Linked DNA regions of Homo sapiens. The protein of the gene in region 1 purifies or fractionates together with the protein of each later gene. This does not show direct contact. Each region holds a gene or a part of one and is shown in the gene's direction. Other genes may lie near its edges.

Evidence for each region.
Region 2: the proteins of ACKR5 (region 1) and DGAT1 purify together in Homo sapiens (co-immunoprecipitation; 2 studies listed by BioGRID and IntAct, with this or other methods). This does not show direct contact.
Region 3: the proteins of ACKR5 (region 1) and ACAD10 purify together in Homo sapiens (co-immunoprecipitation; 2 studies listed by BioGRID and IntAct, with this or other methods). This does not show direct contact.
Region 4: the proteins of ACKR5 (region 1) and NFXL1 purify together in Homo sapiens (co-immunoprecipitation; 2 studies listed by BioGRID and IntAct, with this or other methods). This does not show direct contact.
Region 5: the proteins of ACKR5 (region 1) and SFXN5 purify together in Homo sapiens (co-immunoprecipitation; 2 studies listed by BioGRID and IntAct, with this or other methods). This does not show direct contact.
Region 6: the proteins of ACKR5 (region 1) and FADS1 purify together in Homo sapiens (co-immunoprecipitation; 2 studies listed by BioGRID and IntAct, with this or other methods). This does not show direct contact.
Region 7: the proteins of ACKR5 (region 1) and EXOC3 purify together in Homo sapiens (co-immunoprecipitation; 2 studies listed by BioGRID and IntAct, with this or other methods). This does not show direct contact.

What each region holds. Positions count from the first base shown.
Region 1 is NC_000012.12:56,992,841-56,997,291, forward strand, and holds the start of ACKR5 (G-protein coupled receptor 182), read left to right. Parts: upstream 1-1,651; 5' UTR 1,652-1,808; intron 1,809-2,353; 5' UTR 2,354-2,369; coding exon 2,370-3,584; 3' UTR 3,585-4,451. UniProt on the Homo sapiens protein: Orphan receptor.
Region 2 is NC_000008.11:144,323,861-144,328,235, reverse strand, and holds the start of DGAT1 (diacylglycerol O-acyltransferase 1), read left to right. Parts: upstream 1-1,383; 5' UTR 1,384-1,599; coding exon 1,600-1,799; intron 1,800-2,854; exon of another isoform or gene 2,855-2,918; coding exon of another isoform or gene 2,919-2,938; intron 2,939-2,983; exon of another isoform or gene 2,984-3,591; coding exon of another isoform or gene 3,592-3,620; intron 3,621-4,007; exon of another isoform or gene 4,008-4,229; intron 4,230-4,262; exon of another isoform or gene 4,263-4,275; intron 4,276-4,375. UniProt on the Homo sapiens protein: Catalyzes the terminal and only committed step in triacylglycerol synthesis by using diacylglycerol and fatty acyl CoA as substrates. Highly expressed in epithelial cells of the small intestine and its activity is essential for the absorption of dietary fats.
Region 3 is NC_000012.12:111,692,174-111,696,118, forward strand, and holds part of ACAD10 (acyl-CoA dehydrogenase family member 10), read left to right. Parts: intron 1-523; 5' UTR 524-536; coding exon 537-723; intron 724-3,945.
Region 4 is NC_000004.12:47,886,874-47,890,818, reverse strand, and holds part of NFXL1 (NF-X1-type zinc finger protein NFXL1), read left to right. Parts: intron 1-115; coding exon 116-206; intron 207-3,945.
Region 5 is NC_000002.12:72,956,624-72,960,568, reverse strand, and holds part of SFXN5 (sideroflexin-5), read left to right. Parts: intron 1-3,465; coding exon of another isoform or gene 3,466-3,589; intron 3,590-3,945. UniProt on the Homo sapiens protein: Mitochondrial amino-acid transporter. Transports citrate. Does not act as a serine transporter: not able to mediate transport of serine into mitochondria.
Region 6 is NC_000011.10:61,806,960-61,810,904, reverse strand, and holds part of FADS1 (acyl-CoA (8-3)-desaturase), read left to right. Parts: intron 1-25; coding exon 26-154; intron 155-3,945.
Region 7 is NC_000005.10:463,635-467,579, forward strand, and holds the end of EXOC3 (exocyst complex component 3), read left to right. Parts: intron 1-655; coding exon 656-778; intron 779-1,476; coding exon 1,477-1,638; intron 1,639-2,083; coding exon 2,084-2,211; intron 2,212-3,092; coding exon 3,093-3,264; 3' UTR 3,265-3,656; downstream 3,657-3,945. UniProt on the Homo sapiens protein: Component of the exocyst complex involved in the docking of exocytic vesicles with fusion sites on the plasma membrane.

The sequences.
Region 1 (4,451 bases):
GCGCCACTGAATTGTACACTTAAAAATGGTTAACGTGGTAAACCTTACATATATTTTACCATAATAAAAGAATCAGTGAGCAAACTTTTAAAAAATGTTCTCTTTGAGTGGATAAAGAAAATGTGGTGTGTGTGTGTGTATATATATATATATATATATGGGAATATTACTCAGCCATGAAAGGAAATGAAGTACGGATGCATGCTCCAAAGTGAATGAACCTTGAAAACATGCTAAGTGGAAAAAAAAAAACACAGACACTGAATGTCACATATGATATGGTTCCCTTTCTATTAAGTATCCAGAATAGGTAAATCCACAGGGACAGGAAGCAGAAGGTTGGTGGTGGGGGGAATAGGATTGACTGCTTAATGGTTATGGGGTTTTCTTTGCGGGTAATGAAGATGTTTAGCACGTAGACAGAGGTGGTGTTTGCACAATGTGCATGTCTAAATGCCATTAAATCACACATTTTAAAATGGTTAATTTTATGCTATGGGAATTTCACCTCGACTTAATATATACTCAATCCCGTCCAGCCGACACACCTTTGGCTCAGGCCTAGGCCACTCTGCCATCTGCCAAGTGTGGCTTGTGTAACAGACAACTTCTCTGGGCCTCAAAGAGGGTGAAGAAATCCATCCTCCCCACAGGGGTATCTCCAGAATCCAACGAGATGAAGTGAGGTGAAAGCGCTCTGAAGGGCAGGAAGCTCTGCTGACACAAAATGTTTACCCATAACACGTGGCTTAGAGTCCCTTACCCTCTAGCTTGGCGGGAGAGAGAAGTCTGCTCTCCCTACCCCACGCCCCATCCCCTGCTCATCCCCTGCCAGCCACCCACCACACCCTTCACGCAGAGAAGTATAGAGCCACAGGGGGAGGGCGCCATTCTCTCTCTCCCTCCCTACTCAGGAATCTCCCTGAAGCTTTGACAAAGCCCCCTTGACACCCCGCATTCAATCTTATTTTTATTTTTTTTTATTAACTCTGTCACCTAGGCTGGAGTGCAGTGACCTGATCTCAGCTCACTGCAACCTCCGCCTCCTGGGCTCAAGCGATTCTCCTGCCTCAGCCTCTCAAAATGCTGGAATTACAGGCGTGAGCCACCATGCCCAGCCATTCAATCTTTTCTTTCCCAGATTCTCACCTCCAATCACAAGATGAAGGCAGGGAGCTCACAGCCCTGTGAGGGGCTGGGGAGAATGGCAGGGGTGGGCCAGAGTTATTAAAAGCCCAACTGATGTTCAGATTTATTTTGACCCTCCCCTATACCCCCACATCCAATTTCACTCTAGTAGGAATCAAGACAGGGGAGAGAGGGATTCCAAGCTGACTTAGGGAGAGGAAAATACATACATACGTAAAGCATTTGCCACAGGCCCCACCTGAGCTAAGCACTTTCCCTCCCTCAACAGCTCCTTTAATTCTCAAAGCATCCCTTTTAGTAGATAATAGACCCCACTTTGCAGAGGAGAGCACTGAGGCTGAGGAAAGAGGTAAATTCATTCAGCGGGTGAGGGAGGAGCTGGGATTTTAATGCTGGCAGTATGACCTCCCCGCCACTGGCACACCGGGTCTTTTGCTGGGACATCCCCTGTAACCGGATTGGGGGAATGCAGGAAAAACCCCATCCCTCCCTACAGAGCCTCAGCAGTGACAGCTACTTCCCGGATGAGAAGGGCGGCCGTGAAGCCAGCAGGGAAGCCAGCCCCACAGCCAAGGGCCCCCCAGCCTCCTCACAGCTCCCCATAGCCTGGACCTGCCGGCCCTCCCTCCAGGACCGAGGGGCTCCCAAGGGAAACTCAGGTGAGTGTCGCCCTCTCCCAGGGAAGATGGGAATCAGGGCTTGGAGACAACTGGCTATCCTGCATGATCCACAGGTTTTCCTAGGGATGAATCAGATTGTGTGGTGTGCGTGTGTGTGTGTGTGTTCCACACTCACGGTCCAAATAACAAGACAGAAAAAGAGCAATAAAGATCTGTGCAAAAGGGCTGAGGAATGAAGTGCCAGGAGAGAGGTGGAGGTTGGAGACCACCTAGGAATGGTGGGTGTGGGGGGATTGAGGGGGTTGTTGAGGGGGAACTGGCTGGGGGTGGGGAGAAATGTTGGTGGACACCAACAGTCCTGGCCTCTTCCAGCTGAAACCCCTTAAGAAAGTATCTCTGCTCTTGGGTCAGAGCTAGCAAGTGAGTTGTGTATTATTTATTCACAGTTTGAAAGCTAAACTTCCCTTTCTTGCCTTAGCCCCAGAATCTTTCCCCAAAGCCCCCGACTCCCTCTGGCCTCTACCTTGAGGACACAAGGCTCTCGAGGTCTGCTTTCCCTTCCAACCCTCCCTTCATCCCAATAGGCGTGTGCTGGTCCCAATGTCAGTGAAACCCAGCTGGGGGCCTGGCCCCTCGGAGGGGGTCACCGCAGTGCCTACCAGTGACCTTGGAGAGATCCACAACTGGACCGAGCTGCTTGACCTCTTCAACCACACTTTGTCTGAGTGCCACGTGGAGCTCAGCCAGAGCACCAAGCGCGTGGTCCTCTTTGCCCTCTACCTGGCCATGTTTGTGGTTGGGCTGGTGGAGAACCTCCTGGTGATATGCGTCAACTGGCGCGGCTCAGGCCGGGCAGGGCTGATGAACCTCTACATCCTCAACATGGCCATCGCGGACCTGGGCATTGTCCTGTCTCTGCCCGTGTGGATGCTGGAGGTCACGCTGGACTACACCTGGCTCTGGGGCAGCTTCTCCTGCCGCTTCACTCACTACTTCTACTTTGTCAACATGTATAGCAGCATCTTCTTCCTGGTGTGCCTCAGTGTCGACCGCTATGTCACCCTCACCAGCGCCTCCCCCTCCTGGCAGCGTTACCAGCACCGAGTGCGGCGGGCCATGTGTGCAGGCATCTGGGTCCTCTCGGCCATCATCCCGCTGCCTGAGGTGGTCCACATCCAGCTGGTGGAGGGCCCTGAGCCCATGTGCCTCTTCATGGCACCTTTTGAAACGTACAGCACCTGGGCCCTGGCGGTGGCCCTGTCCACCACCATCCTGGGCTTCCTGCTGCCCTTCCCTCTCATCACAGTCTTCAATGTGCTGACAGCCTGCCGGCTGCGGCAGCCAGGACAACCCAAGAGCCGGCGCCACTGCCTGCTGCTGTGCGCCTACGTGGCCGTCTTTGTCATGTGCTGGCTGCCCTATCATGTGACCCTGCTGCTGCTCACACTGCATGGGACCCACATCTCCCTCCACTGCCACCTGGTCCACCTGCTCTACTTCTTCTATGATGTCATTGACTGCTTCTCCATGCTGCACTGTGTCATCAACCCCATCCTTTACAACTTTCTCAGCCCACACTTCCGGGGCCGGCTCCTGAATGCTGTAGTCCATTACCTTCCTAAGGACCAGACCAAGGCGGGCACATGCGCCTCCTCTTCCTCCTGTTCCACCCAGCATTCCATCATCATCACCAAGGGTGATAGCCAGCCTGCTGCAGCAGCCCCCCACCCTGAGCCAAGCCTGAGCTTTCAGGCACACCATTTGCTTCCAAATACTTCCCCCATCTCTCCCACTCAGCCTCTTACACCCAGCTGAGGTAGAGGCCAGACTCCTCCAACAGTGAAGGAAAAGGCACAGGTGAGAGTATAGGTGGGAGATTTGGGGGGATGTAGAGGGGAGGGTCAAAGCACTCGTGGTCAATTTTGAATCTATCTTAAAATACTGAGGTGTGGAGAGAGAGACAGGATCAGGAGCGATAGAGAGCAGGCCCTCAGTGTTGTACTATTTGTCTCGGTCCTTGTGTCTAAGGAGCAATGCAGAAAAAAAGGTGAAATAAATGGAAGAGATAGCCATGGACTCTGGATCTTTTAAAAATCTGCACTTCCAGCTGGGATTGGGAAGGGAGCTGAGGCTAAAGAGGTGCTCGGCAGAGGAAACTAGACACATTCATTTCATAAATCACTCTGGCTGGAAACAGTGAACTCTGCAGGAACCTCACAAAACTCCTTTTGCGTTTGTGAGCTTGTTGATCTTCCAGCTCACTATGCAGGTTATGGGGACAAGAGGCCAGAGGCCAAGGAACCAGGCGGCCCCAGCAGGACGTTCCCTAGCTGTGCATCCTATGCACAGCCATGATAAGTGAAGGCGGATGGGGATGGCAGGGGTGGGGGCGAAGCCAAGGTCTGAGACCTGCACCCTGCAGCTGGGTCAGCAGGATGGTATCTCCACCCGCGGCCATCCAGGAAACACAGCTCCATTTCCTTGCTGACACCCTCCCCTCCCCGTTGTCCATCCTGCTCCCTCCCCACAAGCAAGAGGAGTTGTCCCAGAGTCAGCTCCTCATAGCTGACCTCTTACCAGCTTCGGATCTAGGAAACTTCCAGACTTCTAGGGAGACACAGAGCTACCAGAAAGCCCAACCCACCCCCATCTCTTTCTCTCCAGATCATAGGAAAGTATCAA
Region 2 (4,375 bases), on another chromosome or scaffold:
TAGTTGCTTCATTTAACATACAAGATGTCTGGGGCAGTGGCTCATACCTGTAATCCCAGCACCTTCAGAGGCCGAGGTGGGAGGATTGCGTGAGGCCAGGAGTTCGAGACCAGCCTGGGCAGAATAGCGAGACCCCCATCTTTAGAAAAAATAACAACAGGCCAGGCGCGGTGGCTTGCGCCTATAATCCCAGCACTTTGGGAGGCCGAGGTGGGCGGATCACGAGGTCAGGAGATCGAGACCAGCCTGGCCAATATGGTGAAAGCCCGTCTCTACTAAAAACAGAAAAATTAGCTGGGCGTGGTGGCACGCGCCTGTAGTCCTGGCTACTCGGGAGGCTGAGGCAGGAGAATCGCTTGAACCCAGGAGGTGGAGGTTGCAGTGAGACGAGATCGCGCTACTGCACTCCAGCCTGGCGACAGAGTGAGACTGTCTCAAAAAAAGAAAAAAGAAAACAAAAAACAACAGGGCGGTTGCACAGGCCGTGCAAATGCACAGAAGCCTCTTGAGTCCCGGCGATCCAGCGGCCCAGACTTCTGACATCCTGGAGAGGCTGGCCCACGTTGGAAACTGGGAGGCCCTGAGAGTTGAGGGACGTGGAGCTCCTTGTGGAGAGAGTGGGTGGGCTGAGAAGACACCACCAAGGGGCCTGCGCCCTCGCCCTCGCCCTCGCCCTCCTCTCGCCGGGCTCTGCAGGCGGGGAGGTGGAGAGCCTGGGAGTCGCGTGCAAGGCAGGCGTCCCGGTGACGCAGGGCCTGGTGCATTTCTCCAGCTTGGTCTTCTGACCTGGCCCTTGTCTGACGTCCCCCTAAGGCGAAGAAAAGCAGGTTCCTGCCGGGGTAACCAGAGGGCTCGCGGAGCAGAAGCGCGCCAGGGACGTTACTGTAAGCTGCGTGCGCAGAAACCAACGCGCTGGGTGGCGGGCGACGCGAGCCGCCGCGGACACCGGCCCGGACAGCTGGACCGTGGCGCACTAGGCGCTTCCTAAATGATTGCCCGGAGTGACTCGCCGAGACCCCGTGTGTACACAAGTGGGACGAGGGGCGGGCGCACAGCGGCCAGGAAGTCGGGGCCCAGCGCACCCCTCAGCGGACCATCCCGCTCCGTGGGGCCGGACAGGACCCCGGGACCACGCGGGAGCGATGCAAGGTCCGTTCCCGCTGCGCGCACTTGCGGCCCGCAGCCCCGGCCCTGGGAGCTGCCACGGCTCCCAGGGTGCTCTGCGCCGGTGCGGCCGCGGCGACTACGACTCCCAGGGTGCTCTGCGCCGGCGCGCCCGCGGCGACTACGACTCCCAGGGTGCCCTGCGCCCCGTCAGCCTCTCCAGGCCCCGCCTCAGGTCGGCCGCGGACTACAAATGGACGAGAGAGGCGGCCGTCCATTAGTTAGCGGCTCCGGAGCAACGCAGCCGTTGTCCTTGAGGCCGACGGGCCCGACGCGGGCGGGTTGAACGCGCTGGTGAGGCGGTCACCCGGGCTACGGCGGCCGGCAGGGGGCAGTGGCGGCCGTTGTCTAGGGCCCGGAGGTGGGGCCGCGCGCCTCGGGCGCTACGAACCCGGCGGGCCCACGCTTGGCTGCGGCCGGGTGCGGGCTGAGGCCATGGGCGACCGCGGCAGCTCCCGGCGCCGGAGGACAGGGTCGCGGCCCTCGAGCCACGGCGGCGGCGGGCCTGCGGCGGCGGAAGAGGAGGTGCGGGACGCCGCTGCGGGCCCCGACGTGGGAGCCGCGGGGGACGCGCCAGCCCCGGCCCCCAACAAGGACGGAGACGCCGGCGTGGGCAGCGGCCACTGGGAGCTGAGGTAGCGGAGCGCCTGACCCCCTAACCTCTGACCCAAGGGCCCCGCGACTTTCCGGGGTTGGCCGAAGCGCGAGCTCCGAGTCCGAGAACATGGGCCCTGGGCTAAGCGGGGATCGGTGTGCCCTATGGGCCCTGTGGGGAAACTGAGGCTTGGGGAGAGTCACCTGACAAGGTCACTGGGTAGGGGCTCTGGAGCTGGCCTTGGCCAGGCAGAGGGGAGCCGGCAGGTGTCCCGCATCCAGATCCTCTTGGGTCTGTGCATCCTCAGGGGCTCCTGAGGAGCTTTTCGAGGGGCGGGCTGGTGGGGGCCCGGCCCTGGACAGTGTCCCCTTATATGGAAGGAGTCAGATAAGATCTGGGCAGTTTGTGGTGATAGGTTCCTTCTTGGTGCTATGAGCGGTGCCTTGCGGGTAGGAAAGGCTCCCAGAGGAGGGCTGGCCTGCCAGGGAGGGGGCCAGAGGAGCCCAGGCCTGTCCGAGGACAGGGGAATCAGCAGCTGCCCCGGACAAGGGGCAGTGTTAGAGGCGTTCTTGTCCTTGCAGACCCTTCTGAGAGTGGCTGCGTGGCCCATTCATTGCTCCAGTGGTTAGGCTGGCCTGGAGCCCTGCCGATGTTGCCAGAGCCAGCGTCTGTTGTAGGGACAGAGAGTTGGGTTCTGTGTTGGGACTTCCATCCTCCAGGTGGGGAGTGGGGTATGGGGGTGGTGGACACACCTGCAGGCGTGTGCCCTGCTCAGCTGGATGACTGACAGAGAGGGGTGGAGGGAGAGAACCATGGCCGATGGGAAGGACTTGGCCAGCCTGGGCATTGGCTTCCTCCACCAAGCTGGCCTTGAGCAATCCCCTTGCCACCCTCCATCCCCCCTTTATGGCCTTTACCCTGGCCCAGGGGCCCTCAGGGCTTTGTTTTAGAGAGCAGCTGAGGGCCTAGAGGTTATCAAGGCAGAAGTGGGCTGATTTTGGACATGTAGTTGGCAATGATTTGCTCTCTCAGTGAGCAAGAACAGAGCTTTCCTTCACGGGGCACCATGGGGAGGGGGTTGGGGGAGGGCAGGCACTGTCGTGGCCCTCAGGGTGCTCAGTTCATCTGGGAGATAAGATAACCTCAGCGAGAGTCAGGCATGGAGCAACATGGACAAAGGTCGGGCACGGAGGCCTTGAAGGGGCCGTGGGGAGGAGGGTGGCCCTCCTGAGAGGGGTGCTTGCCTGCTGTGGGCCTGGGGTGCTGGTGAGGGAGGCTGGCCTAGGCACCTCCTACCTGAAAAGGAGGTGTGGCTCCTGGAGTTACCCTCTCTCCAGGAGGCAGGGGGATGGCTACATGACCTGTGGAGGACGTGGGAATTGAGATTTCTTTTTTTTTCTTTTCTTTTTTTTTGAGACTAGTTTTGCTCTTGTTGCCCAGGCTGGAGTAAAATGGCACATTCTTGGCTCACTGCAACCTCTGCCTCCCAGGTTCAAGTGATTCTCCTGCCTCAGCCTCCAGAGTAGCTGGGATTAGAGGCGCCCACCACACCCGGCTAATTTTGTATTTTTAGTAGAGATGGGGTTTCTCCATGTTGGTCAGGCTGGTCTCGAACTCCTGAACTCAGGTGATCCACCTGCCTTGGCCTCCCAAAGTGCTGGGATTACAGGTGTGAGCCACCGCGCCCGGCCGGGAATTGAGATTTTTTTTAGTGTGAGATGAGGGTAGTCCCAGCTTTGGGCCAAGCCGCCACCTGGGGGTAGGCAGGGGAGAGCAGTCACCTTCTTGCTTTGCAAACCAGCAAGGCTTTCCTGTACTTCTGCTGGTGTGGGATGGGTGCAGAGCTCGTGGGAGAGGCCTGGTGAGTCCCTGTCCCTGCCGTGGAGGTCGGGTCTCCTTGGGAAGAGGGGCAGTAGATGGAGAGGTGAGGCCTTCATGGGGCTGGAGGCTGAGACCAAAAGTCTATCTGCTCCTGGGTCTCCAGGACTTGCAGGCTATGTGTGCTTGTCCCTCAGACCTAGGGATGCAGCAGGGCTCGGCCACTGGCTGTGGACACTGGGCTCTTCTCCCTGCTGTCTGCGTCAGGCCTTGCTCTGCCTGCCCTCCTGGGACTTGGCCTCTAGCGCACCCCCTTGTCAGCCTCACAGCCTCCCCTCCCTCCAGCTTCCTGCTGCTCTTGGCCCAGCCCAGCCTTTCCTCTCCCGCTTCCTCATTACTCCTTGAGCTCGGGCCTCCTCCCCTCACGGACACTTCCTGCTCACCTAGGGCTGGGCTCTGGGTGTGAGCTCCTTTCTTCCGGCCCCGTGGCAAGGTGAGGCTGTGAGGCAGGCAGGAGAGGGCACCCCTTTCTGCTCTGCTTGTGGCTCACTCCTGCCAGGCTCTTTGCACACACCCACCAGCCCTCTGCTCACAGGCACCCCAGTCGGGGCCATCCGGTTTCTGGCTTCTCCCAGGGTGTTTTGTCCCTGAGGTGTCCTTTCTGACTCTCCCTTTCTCTCTCCAGCAGGGTCTGCGAGGTGCAGGGAGCCTGCCCCAACCATCTTGAACCCAGGCCCAGCCCAGAGGCCAGAGTGGAGGAGGCGGCAGTGAGCAGAGCTGGACTCTGCCCCCTCCTCA
Region 3 (3,945 bases), about 55 Mb from region 1:
GTCAGGCTGGTCTCGAACTCGCAACCTCAGGTGATCCACCCGCCTTGGCCTCCCATAGTGGTGGGATTACAGGAGTGAGCCACCACACCTGGCCCAGATTTACAATTTTTAAAGAATACTCTGACTGGAGGGTGAAGAAAGAATTGGAGAGAGGTCTGAGAAGAGGCAAGGGGGCCAGTTAGGATCCATGGGCAAGATGGTGGCAGTGAGAATGCAAAGAGGTAGATGAGATTTTCAGGAGAAAGACTTGACAGCACAGAACTAGATAGGGCGAGGTGAGGTAGAGATTGCAGAAAGTCAGAGGCGAGTCCCAGCTTTCTAGCTTGGGCAGCCGAGTGGGCGATGGAGCCCTTGACTAAGTAGCCAGGGAGGGAGGAGACACTGAGGTCAGTTGTGGGTGTGATTCGAAGTGCCTGTTGGAGATGGGTTAGAGATGTCTGGCTGGCCCCTCTGAGCTCCAGGATGGAGGCCTGGTTGGGAGGCAGTGCAGGCAAGTAACGCCCTGTGCCTTCTTCCCACACAGCCTCAGCCTCACCATGTGTGTCAGGAGCTGTTTCCAGTCCCCCCGTCTCCAGTGGGTGTGGAGAACAGCCTTCCTGAAACACACCCAGCGCAGGCACCAGGGGTCCCACCGATGGACACACCTTGGAGGCAGCACCTACAGAGCGGTGATTTTCGACATGGGCGGAGTTCTCATTCCTTCTCCAGGGAGAGTCGCTGCAGGTGAGCTATTGATTCTGTTTCACTTTGTGGGACTAGAGTGGTGGTGGGAGAATGGAGGGTGATCGGGAAGGCAGAGGGGAACACTTGGGCAGCAGTGTGTCCCAGCAGGCCATGCTCTGGCTCTCGAGTCGAATTCCAAGCACCACTAGGGGGCTGAGTGTCTTGGGCGCATGATTCAGCTTCTCCAAATCTTACTTTCCTCATCATTAAATGAGCTAATGGTAGTGCCTTCCTCCTTGGGATTTGGCGGAGAGTTATCCGTGGGAAGCACTTGCTTAGCACAGTGATTGCTCAGTGCATCCTAAATTCTCAATCAATGATGAGCTGCCATGAATGCTGTGATTAGAATTTAACCACCAAGGCAGGGCACAGTGGCTGAAGCCTGTAATCCCAGCACTTTTGGAGGCCGAGGTGAGAGGGTCGTTTGAGCCCAGGAGTTCAAGACCAGCCTGAGCAACATAGTGAGACCCCGTATCTGCAGAAATTTAAAAATTATCTGGGCATGATGACAGGCACCTGTAGTTCTAGCTACTCAGGAGGCTGAGGTCGGAGGATCACATGAATCCAGGTGGTTGAGGCTGTAGTCAGCCGTGATCATGCCACTGCACTCCAGCCTGGGTAACAGAGCAAGACCCTTACTCAAAAACAAACAACCAAAAATCCCAAAGAATTTAACCACTTCTTCTTGGGAACTGTTCTACTTCTGAAATCTAGAATGCTGAAATTCCCCTTTTGATTACAGCCTTCCTCCCTTCTACCCCACTCCCTCTAAACCTGCTTCTGGACTGACAGGGTAAGGGTCAGCCCTCTGGTCTCTGGTCTTCTCTTTACCAGCCCCTTCCTGGTTTTACTTCTTTTCTACTCAGTTCAGTTTTTATTAGTTAAAGTCGTTTTGGCTTCAAGCAGTAGAAAACCTAACAAAACAGTGACTGAAACAAGCTAGAAGTTTCTTTCTCTTGCACATAAAAGCCCAGGTATGTGGTCTGGGGCACTGTGTGATGCGACTCTGTGGTATCAGGGACTCCGACTCTTTATAGCATGTTGCTCTGCTGTGACTTTTCATTTCCACTCTTACATTGTGGTCTGTCTTGGCTGTGTCGCCTCCTGCTATCATATTCTCATGCCAGCCAGCAGGAAGGACAAAGGGCCAGGCAGCCATCCCTCTCCTTTTGACCTTCTGTGGTGGCTGGTTGGCCAGTTCTCCATCCTAAATCAACCCAGGCACAGGTTTTCTATGCCTGCGTGTCTAGGCTTTCCAGCACTGCTGACCAAATTACTCAGCCGTGCTAACTGGCTGCACAAGCTGGTTTCTGAGCTCCAGCCTCAGTTGGGCCATTGGTGCTACGCCTGAGCCTCTCTGTTCCTTCACTCTTATCTCTCTGTTCCTTCACTCGTATCTCTGTCATGTTTACCTCAGGGGCTGTTCCAGACTGTCCACTCCCCCTGCTCCTTACCACCCCCAAATATTCTTGCTCTGCAGATAGCTGAATCTGTTCTTCTACAAAGAACATAAAGACTAAACCTGAGCAACACAGTGAGACCCTATGGTGAGCTAGGATTGCACCACTGCACCCCAGACTGGCACAACAGTCTTTTTTAGAGAACCTGTCTCTAAAAAAAAAGGCAGCAGGGAAGAACATAAAGATCACTGGACAGAAAGTTTCTTGACTTTCTCTAGAATATCTTAAGAACCAATTCACTTCTCTCCATTGCCACTGCCTCCACCCTTGCCTTCTCTCACCCAAATGATGTCATCAGCCTCCTAACTTCCTCTGCCTCTGGCTCTCTGGATTTTACAAAATCTCCTCCCAGCTCCAGAATTAACCTTTCTAAAACATGGATCGTGCTTCTGCGCTTAGCAGCTCACACCTGTAATCTCAGCAATTTAGGAGGCCGAGGTGGGCAGATCGCTTGAGCACAGGAGTTCAAGACCAGCCTGGCCAACCTGGTGAAACCTTGTCTCTACGAAAAATACAAAAAGCGTACCTGGGCATGGTGGTGCATGGATGTAGTCCCAGCTACTTGAGGGGCTGCGGTGGGAGGAACTCTTTAGCCTGGGCGATTGAGGCTGCAGTGAGCTGAGATTGCACCACTGCACTCCAGCCTGGGTGACAAAGTGAGACCCTGTCACAAAATAATAAATAAAATAAAAATAAAGCATAGATCTTGTTCCTTTCATCCCTGGCTTGAAAATCTTGAATGCCTGCATGTGGTCCCCTAGATTAAGTCTAGAAGCTTTCACCTGGGATTCAGGGCTCCTCTCAGTTTTAGCTTTCCTGCTATGGACTACCTGATGCTCCCCAGGCATGCCAGGCACATTTGCATGTTTGTGCCTTTGCAAGCTGTGTTTCCTCCCTGCCTCCTCTGCCTGTTCAAATCCTACTGATGCTTTTAATGGCAAATTTAAGGGGATATTATTCAGCAATGACTGGAATCTTTTGAACACTCAGTAAATCTCATGGTTGTTACTAACTTCAAGAGTCCTCTTCTGTCAAGACTTCTCCAACCTCATTTGCAACCTGGGCAGAATGTTCCTGGATAGCCAATTCCCATTAAGTTTCACCTTCACCGAGATATTTTTGTTTGCAGTGGGATATGTTCATGTCTCCTCTATGGGGCTCTTGGATTCCAGGACCCCAGGTCTGGGATTTCTTCACTTCACTGTTGCAGTGTTAGCTCTGCAGGCTGGCTCAGTCATTCAGGAAATGTTTGATGGGTAAATGTGAACAAAATAGTGATGCCTTCTACTTTGTCTTTTGCTTGACTGGAGCTTCTAATGTTATTTATTTCAAATGAACCATATCAAGGGTCATTTGATAAGAATATACTAGAATTGGCCAGGTGCGGTGGCTCATGCCTTTAATCTCAGCACTTTGGGAGGACGAGATGGGCGGATCACTTGAGGTCATGAGTTTGAGACCAGCCTGGCCAACATGGCAAAATCCAATCTCTACTAAAAATTCAAAAATAAGCGGGGCATGGTGATGGGCACCTGAAATTGCAGCTACTCTGGAGGCTGAGCAGGGAGAACCACTTGAACCCGGGAAACAGAGGTTGCAGTGAGCTGAGATCATACCATTGCGCTGCAGCTTGGGAGACAGAGCAAGACTCTGTCTCAAAAAAAAAAAAAGTATATATATATATACACTAGAATTACTGTACTATACTATTTTTTTTTTTCTTGAGATGGGATCGCGCTCTGTTTCTTAGGCTGGAGTGCAG
Region 4 (3,945 bases), on another chromosome or scaffold:
TCTTTTAGTGAAAAGTGTATCTTTTGCTTTCCATAAGTTCTGTAACTAGTAATGACATGCCTATTATTCATGGGTTTTTGAATTACCTGTTCTTTATATATTGCTTTCTCTTCAGTGTTGCCCTGGAAACTGTCCACCTTGTGATCAAAACTGTGGACGGACTTTAGGATGTAGAAACCATAAGTGTCCATCTGTCTGTCACAGAGGTAAACTTTAATAATAGCTATGATTTTATGTTTGTAGTGATGTAGTGGTTTTTTTTTTCATTGTCAATATTCAATATAATGTATTGAAATAGCGTTTTATAGTCATTATCTCACTTGACTCTCTTAACCTGGAGAAGAAGGTAAGGCAGTTTGCCAGTGTCTCTATTTTATAGGCAAAGAGGTTGAAGCTTAAGAGGGTTCAGTAACTTACTCAGGGAAATGTCTAGTACATTTGAACCCAGGATTTCTGTATATAAAAGTATTGTCCTTTCTATAACACCATATTGTTTTCCCACTTCCTGACTTTCCCCACATAATTTTTTAATCAATGAAGGTGTTCATAGCATTTTGAACACCTTATTTATTCTGAATTTTATATACTTATTTGTAGTTAAATCTAGTAAAGGATTAGATATGTCCGAAGCTGGTGATTTTTAAACATTTTGATGTCATGACCCCTTTACAATCCTTTGGTCCCCAAAGGGCTTTTGTTAATGTGAGTTTTATTCATTGACATTTATTGTATTTGAAATTAAAATAAAATGTAATAATATTTATTATTTTTTAAAAATAGCAGTAATAAACCCATTATATCTTAATACAAATAATGTTTTATGAAAAATAACTATTTTCTGAAAAAAGTAGAAAATTTTACATTTTTACAAATGTCTTTAATGTCTAGCTTAACAGAAAATAGCCGGATTCACATATATGCTTCTGTATTCAGTCTGCTATGGACATCACTTTTCACTAGCTTCTGGAAAACTATGCATGTGAGACCTTGCAGACCTCCTGAAAGGGTCTCAAGAACCACTAGGGTTCCTGGACTATACTTTGAGAATTATGTTATAAGTTATTACTAGACATTAAAAACTGAGTTAACTTCACTCATTTGGATTATGTTGATATGAAATGGAATCTACTGAGATATGGTATACAGTATTGGAAAGATCGTGGACTTAGAGTAAGAAATCCTGGATTTAAGCCTAGACTCTGCCATTTAGTAGTTTAATACCTAGAACAAACTACTGAACTGTTTCTCAGTTGATCTCCCTATCCTTTCAGAAATCCTGCAGCATATAGGGATATGTGGAACAGGCCGGGAGACTATTGGCCCAAGGTTAATAGAACTAGTCGCAGAGTCAGGATGTGAACCCAGTGTTTATGTTATTTCCATTATACTACATTCCTTCCCCATTAGGAAAAGTGTCAGATTCTATTTACCCTGTAGACATTTCCTGTAGGTGTTCTTTGATTTGTCAGTGAAGTTTAGAAATAGTTTTTCAGGTATGCTCTCACCAACACTAGAAAGATTTTATTTTCTTTTATAGTCATTACATCACTGACCCATTGAGTTTTTGCAGATTTTTGCAAACTACATCTCTGTGATATAACTGGTTTAACAGTAGTAAATCTAATATTATGTAATTTACCACATTAAAAGACCAAAGGAGGAATGAGATCATCTTGATAAATGTCTAACATCTATATAAGATAAAAATTTAATTGGAAATAGACATATCCTTAACCTGATAAAGAGTATCTGCAAAAAGTTTAGAGCAAATATCATACTTACTGGAGAAGTGTTGGAAGCATTTCCCTGTCTCATATTTTTGTGAAGCAAAGCCCATAAATATTTCAGTATTTGTCTCTAAAAGATGGATTCTTAACCTAAATGTAGTTAACATATTTCTTCATATCAGCAAACATCTGGTTTTCAAATTTCTTGTTGTCTCATAAGTAACTTCATTTTTTACATCAGTTTATAGACTCAAAAACCTAATAAAATTGACATGTTGTAATTGGTTTTGTCTCTAAAGTCTTTTAATTTATAATTTCCATCCTCTATCTCCTTTTTTCCCCTTATGACTTATTTGTTGAAGAAACTAGGTTGCTTTATTTAGTTTCTCAGAGTCTGAGTTTTGCAGATTGCATCTCTGTGGTATTATTTAACATGTTCCTCTGTCCTCTATATTTTTGATAACCTGTTAATTGGATCTAGAGGTTTGATCAGATTCAGGTTTTGATATTTTTTGGTAGAGTGGTGTTTTTTTGTTTGTTTTGTTTTTATAGATTTCTATTAATCCTTAGAAAAGCTTATTAGTCACAACAAAATTTTCCTTGATGTAAAGTATGTGGAAGATGCTGTTGTGCAACTGTCAATATTTGTTTCATCTACAGTTATAAAAGAATGTGGAATCATAATTTCATACCATTTTTCCATCATTCTAGAATCCTTCATAATCAGAATTATACAGTAATTTATAGGGGGAATATACTAACTGCATGTTTGTGTTGTGGGTATGTGAAAATTTGATTTATAGTTTTGTTTTGTTCTTTGAGACGGAGTCTCTCTCTGTCACCAGGCTGGAGTGCAGTGGCGCAATCCCGGCTCACTGCAACCTCTGACTCCCCATTTCAGGTGATTCTCCTGCCTCAGCCTCCCGAGCAGCTGGCATCACAGGCATATGCCACCATGTCCAGCTAATTTTTGTATTTTTAGTAGAGCCGGGGTTTCACCATGTTGGCTAGGATGGTCTCGATCTCCTGACCTCGTGATCTGCCTGCTTCGGCCTCCCAAAGTGCTGGGATTACAGGCATGAGCCACAGCGCCCAGCCGATTTATAGTTTTTTTTTTTAAATTCAGGATCATCTGTGTTTATAGTTTTAGAACTACCCGAATCATGCCTATTTTGGCTATTAACTGGTATTGGTCAGTATAGTTATAGTCTCCCTATGCTATTTCTTCATTTTGAAAGTATTATGGAAGCTCTTTTAATTATAATAAATTCTGTTGGTCAGTAGGGAGACTGTTTAGAGAAATTGTCCCTTATTTTCAAGATGTAATTTAAATGTGATACTGTTGTTTAGAATAACAAAAAGGTTACGTTTGATAACAAAAAGGTTCCTCTGCTGAAGATGAATGAAAAATTGTCATTGTTAAGTATAGAAACAGATATAATATGCCGAATGAGAACCGACTTAAATATCACTATCAACTTTAAAAATACAACTTGTAGTCATTCTTTAGGTAAAATAAAAATAAAACTTGATATGTGGGTTAGGATAACTTGACTTGCATTAACATCAAGAATATATGTGTCAAAACACATTTGGTGTTTTGTATAATAAATGTTATGTTTGACCCTACGATGTTTTACCTCTAATCTTCTCTTTTTCTGTGTTCATTATTTGAATTATAATTCTTAATTTGTGTTTGTTTTAGGGAACTATTTTGAACTTCTAGAGGCACTTAAGCCAGGATATTGTCCATCTTTAATCTTTTTTTTATCAGGTTAACTCCCGGTCCATGTTTTGCTTGGTCCTGACACCTAGGCAACAGTCTCTTTAAGATATTCATTTCTTCATTGAAAACTCTTCTTCCTTTATTATTTCATTTCTGATAGAGTTCCTTACTGGGAAAACTAGAGTGGAAGAAAGCCCTTAAGATGATGACAGAACCTCTTGGAGCGAACTTTATAGCCTGCTTTAAAGATTTCTTTGATTTTGTTTTTTTATATTTTTGCCAACCCATAACAAAAGAGCGTAAAAAGCTGAAACCAAAATAACATTTTTTTTTATGTTTAGAAGAGAAATATTTGGGATTATATCCTAAAATGGTGGCTTAGTACTTAGTCTTTCACAAAGCACAATTAATGGAAAATTGACTGTGCTTGCTACTAACCAATATCAGGTCATGAGAAAGAAGTTATTGGGAATTCATCTAAAAATTGTGTAC
Region 5 (3,945 bases), on another chromosome or scaffold:
CCTGATTCTGAGCGGCCCCTGTGCTGCCGCGTGGGGCTGGGTTAGAGCTCCAGAGAAGGAACCATCAGGAGCCTGTGGCGGGCATCCAGCAAGCGGTGATGGCGGCTTGGACCAGGCTGTTGGCAGTGGGCATGGAGAGAAGTGGGTCCCTAAAGAGGGAGTCAGGAGGCGGCTTCTTCGGGATTCGATGAAGAGCTGTATGTGGTGGGAGGGAACGGGAGCCAGAGGATGTGCACTGGCTTTCTGGTTTTGAACAACCAGGCAGATGTAGGTGCTTAATGAGATGGAGCCAGGCGGGGGCAGGTTCGAGGGAGGGCAGTGGGTCAGTTGGATGGACACGCGGGGTTGAGGAGCCTGTGGGATGTTGGCTCTGGGTCTGGAATGAGGAGAGACGCCTGGGCTGGAGGGATAGAAGTAGAGCCTACCAGCATGACAACAGTGCTGGAATCGAGGGTGGTGGGTGAGGCCTCCACCCTGGCGGGGTCCAAAGACAAGCAGCCAGGGTGGTGAGGGCAGATCCGGGCCATGTGTGATCAGGGTGGGTGGGGGGCATCCACAGGGTCAGACCCTCCTGAGAGGTCACACTCCATGAGATTACAGAGTATCCATTAGTGTCTCAGGCAACGTAGCCAAACCCTGTCCCCAGAGAAGGGATCCAGGTGACAGGTGAGGGGAAAAAATGAGAAAGACAGGTCCACAGCCGCAACAAGATGTGGGATCAGGAGGGGCTTTTATTTATGTATTTGTCCTTGTTTTAAATGGGAGAGACAGGGGCTTGCGTAAATGCAGTAGAGAAGGCACCAGGAGAGATGTCGAGGACGCTGACAGGACGATTTTGGGAAAGTCTATGAAGAGGAGGGGGGACCAGAGCACAGACGAGGGGATCAGCCTTGGCACGGGGAGACCCCTCCCCACTTCAGTAGGTGGAAGAGGAGTGGGGTGGGAGGAAAATGCTGCTGGGGGTAGGGTTCAGGGGTAGGAAAATTGAAGAAGTTGTTCCAATGGCTCCTGTGTTCTTGTGACTGAGCAGACAGGAGAGAGTAGGGTGGGGAAGGGGCAGGAAGTCAGAGGTCTGAGGACACAGAGAAGGGGTGAGACATCCAGGGGAGAATGAGAGGTGAGGAGGCTGAGCAGCACGTGGTCTGGGAGTGCAGCCGGGCCTGTTCACCAGGAGGTGCTATGGGCCAGTACAGGGAGGGCCACAGATCCTTTCTTCTGGGGTTTTGTCAGGTTGGGGGTGAGGGGGGCTGAGAGATGGGTGACAGCACGGAGGAGCAGAGGACCACGGGATCCACGCTGGGTTGGAGTGAAGGTGGGAGCTAAGCTGAGGGGAAGGCACAGACCCAAGAGGGCCCAGGAGGTGTCTGCATTGAGCTCACAAGAAGGCGAGGGCTGTGGCCAGAAAGCGGCGCTTCTGAATCTGTGATTTCACCATGGACCTGCTTCAGGCAGGGCCCCAAGAGAGGTGGAGGAGAGGTGAGGGCTCCTGGAGACAAGTCGGGGAAGTGAAAACAAGAGGCCGGGGCTGTTGGGGCTGCGAGGGCTGGAGACCCAGGCTCTTAGAGCAGGAGGAGGGGGTGACCCGCCTTAGGCCCTGGAAGGTGAGAAATGGGGTGGCTTCCTTCCAGAGCCCCAGAGTTTGAGGAGGAGACTCTGTGGGAGTGGGGCTCCTGTCTTGGGGGACACCATTCAACGCACACCAAGATTAAAGCTAGCAGGACCTCATCTCATGCCCACAGCGGCCAGCCTTGTCATGGGTGCTGGGATGCTCCTTCCCCCACCTCTCACCCTGGGAAACCTGCAGCCTGGGACTCCAAATGGAGCCATGGGCTCTGGGTTGCCTAGTAGCCCTGAAGAGGGAAGGCGGGTATTTCTCAGTGGTCTCTGACATCCCTGTCCCAGCCCAGCACTCCCTGAAGCCATTGCATCTGTCTGTGCAATCAGCCTGAGCCCAGGGTCCTAGGCCAGGGCCAGAGTCACCCATGTGTTTATAGGTACCTCTGTGCTTCTAGTAGCTGTCATAACTCCACCTGCCTGCACAGAGAAGGGACCCAGGGCAAAGAAAATACTGATGCAGAATCAGAGACCCTCCCAGTTAGAAGGATTTTCAAGGTCATCCAGTTTACCTTGCTACTGACTTTGCTGGGGAAATGGTGGCCCAGAAAAGCCATGGGACCAGCCCAAGGTTGCAGAAGTCAGGTGCCGATAGGAGAGGAAACACCAGAGGTCCACACTCCAAGTCCAGGCCCCTAGGAAGTGCTACACCTGATCATTTCCTGTGGCTGAGTTTCTCTCCCTAGTCAACCACCTTACCTACCTTGGGACAGCCAAGAGAAGAGGGAGCTGGGGGCTGCACTGTGGTGGGTGGTAGGAAACGGTCTAGAAGAGCTGTAGGTCTTTGGCAGGTGTTCCTCTGGGGCATATAATGGGGAGATGCCTACCATTCACCCACCCAGGCCTCCAGCTCTGGCTGCAAAGCAATGATGGAAAGTGAGCCACCCTGGTCTCACAGCTGCTGCAGGTCAAAGCCCAGGCTCCCCTCTCCCCACATGCCTACTTCAAATAGACATGGGAGTTAGTTCTTCTGCATATTTAACCAAAGTCCCTCTTATTGCAATCCAAGCCTCTTTCTCTAGATTGGGAAGAAGATAGTCATTGCATGTTAAGTCTTTGTTCCTCTGGGAAGGGAGGGTACAGGCATGATTTTCAGAGCTCCCTCCTCAGCTATGTGGATCCCAACAAGATGCAGGCTAGCCTGGGCATTATGGGGTGTTTTGAGCCCTGTTTGGGACCCATGGCACCAAAGCCTTCAGCCAACTTGCCGAGAGGGCCTTGTTTCCGCATTCACTCTCCCAATTAATTCTCCCTAACAAGGTGCTTCTTCTGCCATACAGGGATCATGTCTCACATCCCAGAAGCCAGTGGGATTTGCCACAATAAGTCTGGACTTGCTTGGGCTGACCCAGCCTTGCCAAAAGCCACCAAGGTTGTCAACAGAAGTAATCACTGGAACACCAATTAACTAATCAGGGGACTCGGAGGTAGAATTTAGGAACTAGTTCCTAGAGTGGCTGGCCTGCAGTGATTGTTGTGGAGTTTCCAACTCACTAACCCCAGAGATTGAGGCAAGGACTTCAATCCTTCCTTCAGTTCCTGGGGGAGAGTTTTATCTGCTCTTTTCAAATTAGTAGTTCTGCTTATTAAAATGGTACTGAGGGTCAAACTGCAAATAATAATAATGGCTACCATTTGCCAGATATCTATTGGACCAGGCAGCATGCTGGGAGCTCGGTGTACCTTACTGTATTAAGTCTTCCTAATGCCCCTTAAGTCTAAAACATTGAACATCAAGAGATGATTCCTAGACAGTCAGATGGCTCTGGGGAGAGAGTTTGGCTGGAGATACGGAACCTTCAGTGTATGGGGGGGAGTTGAAGCTGAGAAAGGGGATGTGGTCCACTATAGGAGGAAGAAAAACCATCAAGAAGGGGAAGAAGCAGCCAAGGGCACAGGGAGAACCCAGATGGAGTAACTTCATGGAAGCTGAGGACTTGGGCGATTCAAAGAGGAGGGGCTGTCTCCAGAGTGGGTGAGTGCAGAGGGGACTAGGAGTGGAGGAGACTTAGGTGGCATAGCTAGACATGGCAGTCTAGGAGGCAACATGGTATTCAGTTTCTTCTTTGTTCAGATGATTGAGCTCAAAGATGGGGAACTGTGGGAGAACAGCAAAGAAACTGTGAGATGGAGGTTGGGGGGCTTGGAGAGAGGGCAATGATGGGGAAGGAATGCCCAGAGCCCAAGGCGGGAAGGCATGGCCTCTATGGAGTCCCTGGGTCCAGTGAGTAGAGGGGGCTACCTGGCTGTGGTGGAGAAATGGGGGCCTGGATCCTGAGAATTCTCCAAGGTAGGTATCAATATTCCTTGTTTACCAATGAGGAAACTGAG
Region 6 (3,945 bases), on another chromosome or scaffold:
TACTCGTGTCCCTGCTTTTCTGTAGGGGGCCCCCGCCAGTTGGTGGAACCACATGCACTTCCAGCACCATGCCAAGCCCAACTGCTTCCGCAAAGACCCAGACATCAACATGCATCCCTTCTTCTTTGCCTTGGGGAAGATCCTCTCTGTGGAGGTGCGTGGAGGTATCAGTGGAAAGGTCTTGGGGAATAGGAGGCAGCCAACATAGGGGAGTTGGGGAAGATGCCCACGATGTTGTCAGTGTGGGCAAGACACTGGGGCTGGGCTGGCTGGGGCTTTTGCCATTTTGGAAGTTCTGGAAGGCAACAGGCAATAGATGGGGGCTGCCCAGGAGGGAGTCACCATCCTCCCTAGAGAGTTCAGTCAGCAAACCGTTACTGCATAAAAGGCACCTCATTTTGCAAAGGATCCAGCGGATGACCAGAAGGATCCAAATGATGAGATAGCCTATCCTTGAAGGTGCTGATGGCACCTCCTGGAGGTGCTTTTTTGACACTCTTGCCCCAGGCAAGTATTCCCCTTGCACTTTGTATTTCTCTCCCACACTTAGGTATCCTTCTTGTCACAGTCTTCTCTGTCCAGGGCTGGACTGTCTTACTCTTCTTTCATGTCCAATATCTGGAACATTCATTCACTGAGTACTTCTTCCCACCCTGCTGATCCCCAGCCTGATTTCCTGGGTGGTCAGCGTTGGGTTTGAGATGTCGTCTGAAGTTGTAAGCAGAAATAATGTAGCTGCTGAAGGAATAATGCCTGGGGGTGGAGATCTGGTGAGCTTTTAGTGAGCATTAGGCAATGGAAGGTTCTAAAAGGCCAGCAGAATTCTTTGAAAAGTTCATTTAAAGCCCTTTGTCCCAAGGCTGTAGGCTGCAGAGTTCTTCCAGGTCCACCTCCTCCACTTTGTGACATTTCAGCTTGCGAGGAATTAAATTGTCGTTAAAACACATTTCAGTTCTAGGCATGAGTTCAAGGTAGCCTGGCGTTCCTCTCGCCCCTGGCCATGAGAACTTTGAAAGGGCTTTGGCAGCACTGGTTGGCCTGGCATGAGGAGCTCATAGCTTGAGGCTCATGCCCCACCTGTCCATAATGTTCTTATTTTCCCATCATGAGCATGGACTTGGGTTTGTTACATGTCCGATACCATTATGGTCAGTACTATGCAGATGACGAAGCAGCCCTGTCCCCCGTCTGACTCCCATGGCTGCTTCAAGGGCAGTGTGGTTATTTGCTGGGCAGTGGCATGGGGCTTGTGCATTTCTACTGTCACTACAGAGGGTTTAAAAAAAAGACATGGGCAGGTTAAGTGGAAGGGAACAGTCTCACACCACTACCTTTATTGCTTCTTGGTACTTGGGTTTTCAGGAAATTCCTATCAGCAGACATCAAAAACAGAGAATGAAGGGACGCAGTTGGCATGTGCCTGTGGTCCCAGCTACTTGGGAGGCTGAGGTGGGAGCATCGCTTGAGCCCAGGAGGTGAAGGCTGCAGTGAGTATGATCACGCCACTGCACTCCAGCCTGGGTAACAGCGCAACCCTGTGTGTAAAAATAATAATTTTTTAAAAAGATTAAAACCAAAAAAAAATTGTAAACAGAGTTCAACGTAACTTACAGATTAAAAACAGTAAAATATGACAGAAACTGAGAGGTAGTCATGATCAGATATGGCCTCCTTCGGGTGCCGACATCTGAACTGAGACCTGAATGATGAAAAGGGCCAACACTGCAAAAATTCAGGGAAGGAACATTTGGAACAGAGAGAACAGTCAAGTACAGAGGCTCCCGGATGTTCAGGGACAGTAAGCAATGAGAGAATGAGAAGACCAGAAAACTAGGGAGGGGCCAGATCATGTAGGGCCTTAGAAAGCCATGGTAAGGGTGTGGTAAGAAGTTTGGGTTTTATTCCAATAGCAATGGGGAGTCACAGGAGGGTTTCTGGTGGGTACAGCAATCTGCTTTGCACTTTAAAAGGCTTGCTCTGGCTGGAGGTGGAGAGGATGAATTATAGAGGGTAGGTATAATCACAGATATAACCTCAGTGAGGCGGCTGGAGCGAGTCCAGACCAGACCACGGAGGAGCAGGTGAAGCCAATGGATTTGGGATATGTTTTGGAGGCAGTGTAAGCAACGCTTGCTGAGGACCTGGATGTGGTGGTGAGAATCACCCCATCTCGAGCAACATTAACTGAGGAAAAAATTGAAAAAGGGGCGCCCTTGCTTGGGGGCTTCCTATTGTGGAACTGTTATGGAAAGGAGCCCCATCCATTGCTTCCTCCTTGAATGGCAAATGCCTTTATGATCCCTATAACTTGTCCCATTATGTTTAGACCCTTGGTGGTCAGAAGGGTTCTATTTAGGGCAGTGTCCCCTGCCCCTCCTTGTCCTCCAAAAATTTTGGGAGGCACTGACGTGGATGTCATGGGGTCAGCACAGGCATCAACATCCCCAGAGGGATGGAACCAAGCAGCCTATTGCCCAGGCATTCACTAACAGGCAGCCCATCCTCAGCCTCATAGCTGGCCGGGGAGAAGAAAGGCTATTTTGGGTCCCAGATCTTTTTTTTTTTTTTTGAGACAGAGTCTCGCTCTGTCACCCAGGCTGAAGTGCAATGGTGCGGTCTCAGCTCACTACAACCTCCGCCTCCCGAGTTCAAGAGATTCTCCTGCCTCAGCCTCCTGAGTAGCTGGGACTACAGGTGCGTACCACCAAGCCTGGCTAATTTTTGTGCTTTTAGTAGGGACGTGGTTTCACCATGTTGCCCAGGTTGGTCTCAAACTCCTGGGCTCATGCAGTCCGCCTACCTCAGCCTCCCAAAGTGCTGGGATTACAGGCATGAGCCACTGCACCCGGTCTCTGTTTACAAATTTATCACCAGCTTCATCCCCTAAGGTTATAAGCTCCATGAGGGTGGGAAGTCTGTATTGTTCACCTCTGTATCCTAAGCATCTAGAACATAGCCCGGCACACAGTAGGTGCTGAAGAACTTGAATCTGTTAATGTAGAAAGGATGTTTCATCTAGCTGAAGTGTCTTGTACAGAATAAACTCTCAATAAATGAACTGTGGACACATGGAAGGGTGAGCTAGAGCTCTGCTCAGGGGTTGAGTGCTCCTCTTGTGCCCTTGTGGTTGTCTGGTTACCTGAACTAATTGGAGTGCGATGCAGACATAGTCATGGAGTGAGACAGCAGAACTTTGCTGTCTTGTTTGTGAGCCCACATCAGGGGTTCTAGACTGGCTGGTTGACATGGTGGCCCCAGCCTGTCTCTTCAGCAGCTCGGCTTATAAAAAATAACCACCACCTACTGGGGAAAACTGCTGGAACCTTCAGATTGCCAAATTGTTCTTGGTGTCTTTTCCAGAAATATTTGCCAAACTCGAATTAGCCTTCAGGAGATTTGATAAAGCTCATGTTTAAGTCAAGAGACCAAAAGATTTTGATGGGGAGAATTAGGGGCTGGATATAGAGGGAATACTTAACCTGTATAGGGGCAGATATGGTTGTCCATGGAGATTCTGGTGTGAAAAAGTACGATGGCGGCCGGGCGCACTGCCTCACACCTGTAATCCCAGCACTCTGGGAGGCTGAGGTGGGTGGATCACCTGAGGTTGGGAGTTCAAGACCAGCCTGAACAACATGGAGAAACCCCATCTCTACTAAAAATACAAAATTAGCTGGGCGTGGAGGCACATGCCTGTAATCCTAGCTACTTGGGAGGCTGAGGCAGGAGAATCGCTTGAACCCAGGGAGGCAGAAGTTGTGGTAAGCCAAGATCGTGCCATTGCACTCCAGCCTGGGCAACAAGAGCGAGACTCCGTCTAAAAAATAAACAAAAAAGTACGATGGGAGAAAGGGGAGAGGGCAGTGGGGCCTGGAAACCTCATGACAAAGAGAATGAACACAAGAGGGCCTGTGGTCCTGTAGACTCTGTGCTGTGCACATCCCT
Region 7 (3,945 bases), on another chromosome or scaffold:
AATTTGTACACTTCTATTGGAGTTTTAATTTGTATACTTTTATTGGAGTTTTAATTTGTATACTTTTATTGGTTTTAATGTGTATACTTTTTGACTGAAAAATTCAACTTTAAGGAATTTCATCAGAATTATACAGATTCACTGTTGCATTATTGCAAAATGTGAAAAAAATTTAAATGTCCATCAATAGAGAATTGGGCAAATAAATACGATAAATATATGTAGCCACTAAAGGTAAAATGTATACATGCACAGATATTTCCATCTTTAACATGTCATTTTGGGAAGCTCATCACAGAAATTGTAGTATAAATCTCCTATACTTAAAGTACACATTTGCAGATTATATAATCAAATTTTTACCTGAGTGCGCATTGCTGTTGTAATTAGAAAAGCAGTGTGACGTAGCAAAGATGCACGGAAGTGCCTCCCTCCCACACGCACTCAGTGCTCGTGGGACGTTGAGGTGAGGAAGTGCCTCCCTCCCACGCTGCACGCAGCTCTCGTGGGGCGTTGAGGTGAGGAAGTGCCTCCCTCCCACACTGCACGCAGCTCTCGTGGGGCGTTGAGGTGAGGAAGTGCCTCCCTCCCACATGCACTCGGCTCTCGTGGGACGTTGAGGTGATGATTTCTATGATCTGTTTCTGCTTTTCAGCAACATCTGAATGAATTGATGACGAAGAAGTGGCTATTAGGGTCAAACGCTGTAGACATTATCTGTGTCACCGTGGAAGACTATTTCAACGATTTTGCCAAAATTAAAAAGCCGTATAAGAAGGTAAGAAGGTGGGACCTAGTTCCCTCATCACCTTGACGCTAGGGCTCACCTCTCACCCTGCTCAGAATTCAGCATCCAGCGAGTCCCTCCGTGAGTGAACGTTCACTTGTTGTCCTATCAGCCCAAGGGAGGCAATAGGCTCTGCGGACGCCACCTCCCTGGGACGGGGCTCTGGTGAGAATGGCCGGGGCCCTGTGGCATGGCCCTCGAGGTGGAGGGAGCCATGGTTCCCGGAGAGGCCCGCGTGCCCCGTCTTAGCTCCTTGCCTTCCACTCACTCCCTGAGGCCCCAGGGATTTCTTTCCGCTTCAGACCCTCCTTCCTGCAGGACCCAGGTTCCTCTTTCCTCCAAAGTGCCTGCCGCGTTTTCCAGATGCTGCGGTCGTTATCAAAGGACAGCAGCAGCCACTGACACGGGCCTGTCTGTGGACCGAGTGCTCATGCGCGGCACTGCCTCGCCCGCGTCTGTCCTGCTGGGGGCCGGAGCTGGCCTGGTGCGGGGGTCCAGGTCACCGTCACTGTTCCCCCACTGAGCCCCCGCTCCTCCTCTGCGGTGAGATGCCAGAGCCGTGGCGGAGCGAGGAGGAGTGGGCTCAGAGCCTCCGGGGAGCCACCGGGAGCCCCAGCCTGGGTTTCAATGAGGGTGCTCCTGGCCGCCAGAGCCGTGGAGCCTGCCGCTGACCGCGCGTGTCTCCCCAGAGGATGACGGCCGAGGCGCACCGGCGCGTGGTGGTGGAGTACCTGCGGGCGGTCATGCAGAAGCGCATTTCCTTCCGGAGCCCGGAGGAGCGCAAGGAGGGTGCCGAGAAGATGGTTAGGGAGGCAGAGCAGCTGCGCTTCCTGTTCCGGAAGCTGGCGTCCGTGAGTGTCGCGCAGGTCCGGGCTGGAGAAGGCCTGTCGCTCCGCGGCCCTGTTCAGCCTCCACCCCGGGACTCGGGCCAGTAGATGGGAGTGTGTCGTGTGTTTGTCAGGCGGGGGGAGCCTGGGTCCAGGTCCTGCCTGACCTTGTGGTTGGACACGAATGTCCACAGAGGTAGACGCGCCGGCCCCGCCGGCTTCCCGAGGCCGCCCACAGCTCCCTGACGGACGCTTCCCAGTCTGTCCTGCGCTGCGAGGTGCTGGCTGCCTCCCACGGTCTCGCCCTCACCCCAGACCCCTGGCCCTGTCACTGAGCTTTCAGAGTAGATCCTGAGGAGTCAGGTGAAGAGGGAGGTTCCCAGTCAGGAAGGGGCTCAGCCAGAATCCAGCTGCTCCCAGCGCCGCGGGACAGCCGAGGGCGGCTCCTCACATTGCTGCTGCCTTCCAGGGTTTCGGGGAAGACGTGGACGGATACTGCGACACCATCGTGGCTGTGGCCGAAGTGATCAAGCTGACAGACCCTTCTCTGCTCTACCTGGAGGTCTCCACTCTGGTCAGCAAGTATCCAGACATCAGGTAAGGGATGCACGTCTTAGAATCCTGCCTTAGAATCCTGGAGTGGAGCGGCAGGTCCCTCCTTCTGTCTGGGGCGGGTGGGGCTCCTGGTTCGCAAGTTCAGCCCTGCAGCACGGCAAGGGTTCAGGTGCGGCACAGCGGGGCCCAGGCGCAGGGAGCAGAGCTGCTTCTGTGCTGCCTTCCACCTGGCCTGGGCTACAGTGTGGGTGGGTGGAGCTCGAGGGGCACATCCCGGGTGGGGACAGTGGGGTGGGGGCGGGGCTGTGACAGCTCTGCTGTGTGTGGTGGGGAAGATTTGGGCTGTGGAGTGGCCTCAGTGGGGCGAGTTTAGGAAGTTTCCTCTGTGCTCATGGTGGACTCGGGAGGGCCCAAGTGCAGCTTGGACCAGACACCTTCCGAGGACGTGATTACAGGGAGTCCCCAGTACCAGGTCCAGGGAAGGGGACCCACGCACGTCCCCCCTCCACCATGCTGGCTCCAGGCCCCAGGCCAGCCTTTGCGGCCCCTGTCTCAGGGCACCTGCCACTTCCCCAAGGGGCCACCTCCATGGCTGCAGCCGCGTCACCTCCGTCCCATCATCTCGCTGGTTAAACGTGGAAAAACGGGGTCTTGAGCTCTCCACGGTCTCCCCTCTGGTTGGGCCGGAACAAAGATTTATAAAAGCAGTGTTGAAAAATCTTTCTGCAATTGGATTGAGAAAAGACAGAGTAAGATGAAAATGCAGGCTTGTCTCCCGCTGAAAAGGGAAAGGTGCAATTTGTCTGCAGCGGTCCTCACCCCCTGTGTTCTGTCAGCTGGGGTGGTGAAGCCGTGAGTCCCTGGCAGCGTGGTGCATCACAGGGCTGCTAAGTGGGCATGGGCTGACATCTCCCCATCCCCAGGGATGACCACATCGGTGCGCTGCTGGCTGTGCGTGGGGACGCCAGCCGTGACATGAAGCAGACCATCATGGAGACCCTGGAGCAGGGCCCAGCACAGGCCAGCCCCAGCTACGTGCCCCTCTTCAAGGACATTGTGGTGCCCAGCCTGAACGTGGCCAAGCTGCTCAAGTAGCCTCCGCCGGCCTGCCCTGCTCGCCCCTCCACAGCCTCGGTCCCTGCCTTTAGAAACGCGGGACAGCTGATTGCTCTCCTTGGCCACACGTGCTCCTTTTAGCTGCACGGCCTGTCTTTAGGTGCCAGTGTGATGCACCGGGTGTGCGTCGAGTGAGCGTCCCGAGGCCACGTGCGGAGGCCCCTCACTGTGCTGTCAAAGGCCTGTGGGTGCAGGGCTCTGCCGCACAGCCTCTCTTGGGTGCTTGTTTGTTGCAGTGGTTGAAAGTGTGTGGGGCACAGAGGACGTGCACCTCCCTGCCCTCCTCCTCCCTGGGCCTTCACCGCACCCCATCTGCTTAAGTGCTCGGAACCCCGTCACCTAATTAAAGTTTCTCGGCTTCCTCAGAGAAATGAAAACGCCATGCATTCTCTTTTCCAGTTAAGGTTTTCTGACTACTGATCTAGGATTGCCCAGGAACTGTTGTCAATCACAGAGTAAAAGTCTCCGCTCAGCCTGGAGGGCGCCCTCCTGGTCCCCTCCTGTCTGACATCCCCTCAGCCTAGAGGGCGCCCTCCTGGTCCCCTCCTGTCTGACATCCCCTCAGCCTAGAGGGTGCCTTCCTGATCCCCTCATGTCTGACATCCCCTCAGCCTGGAGGGCGCCCTCCTGGTCCCCTCCTGTCTGACATCCCCTCAGCCT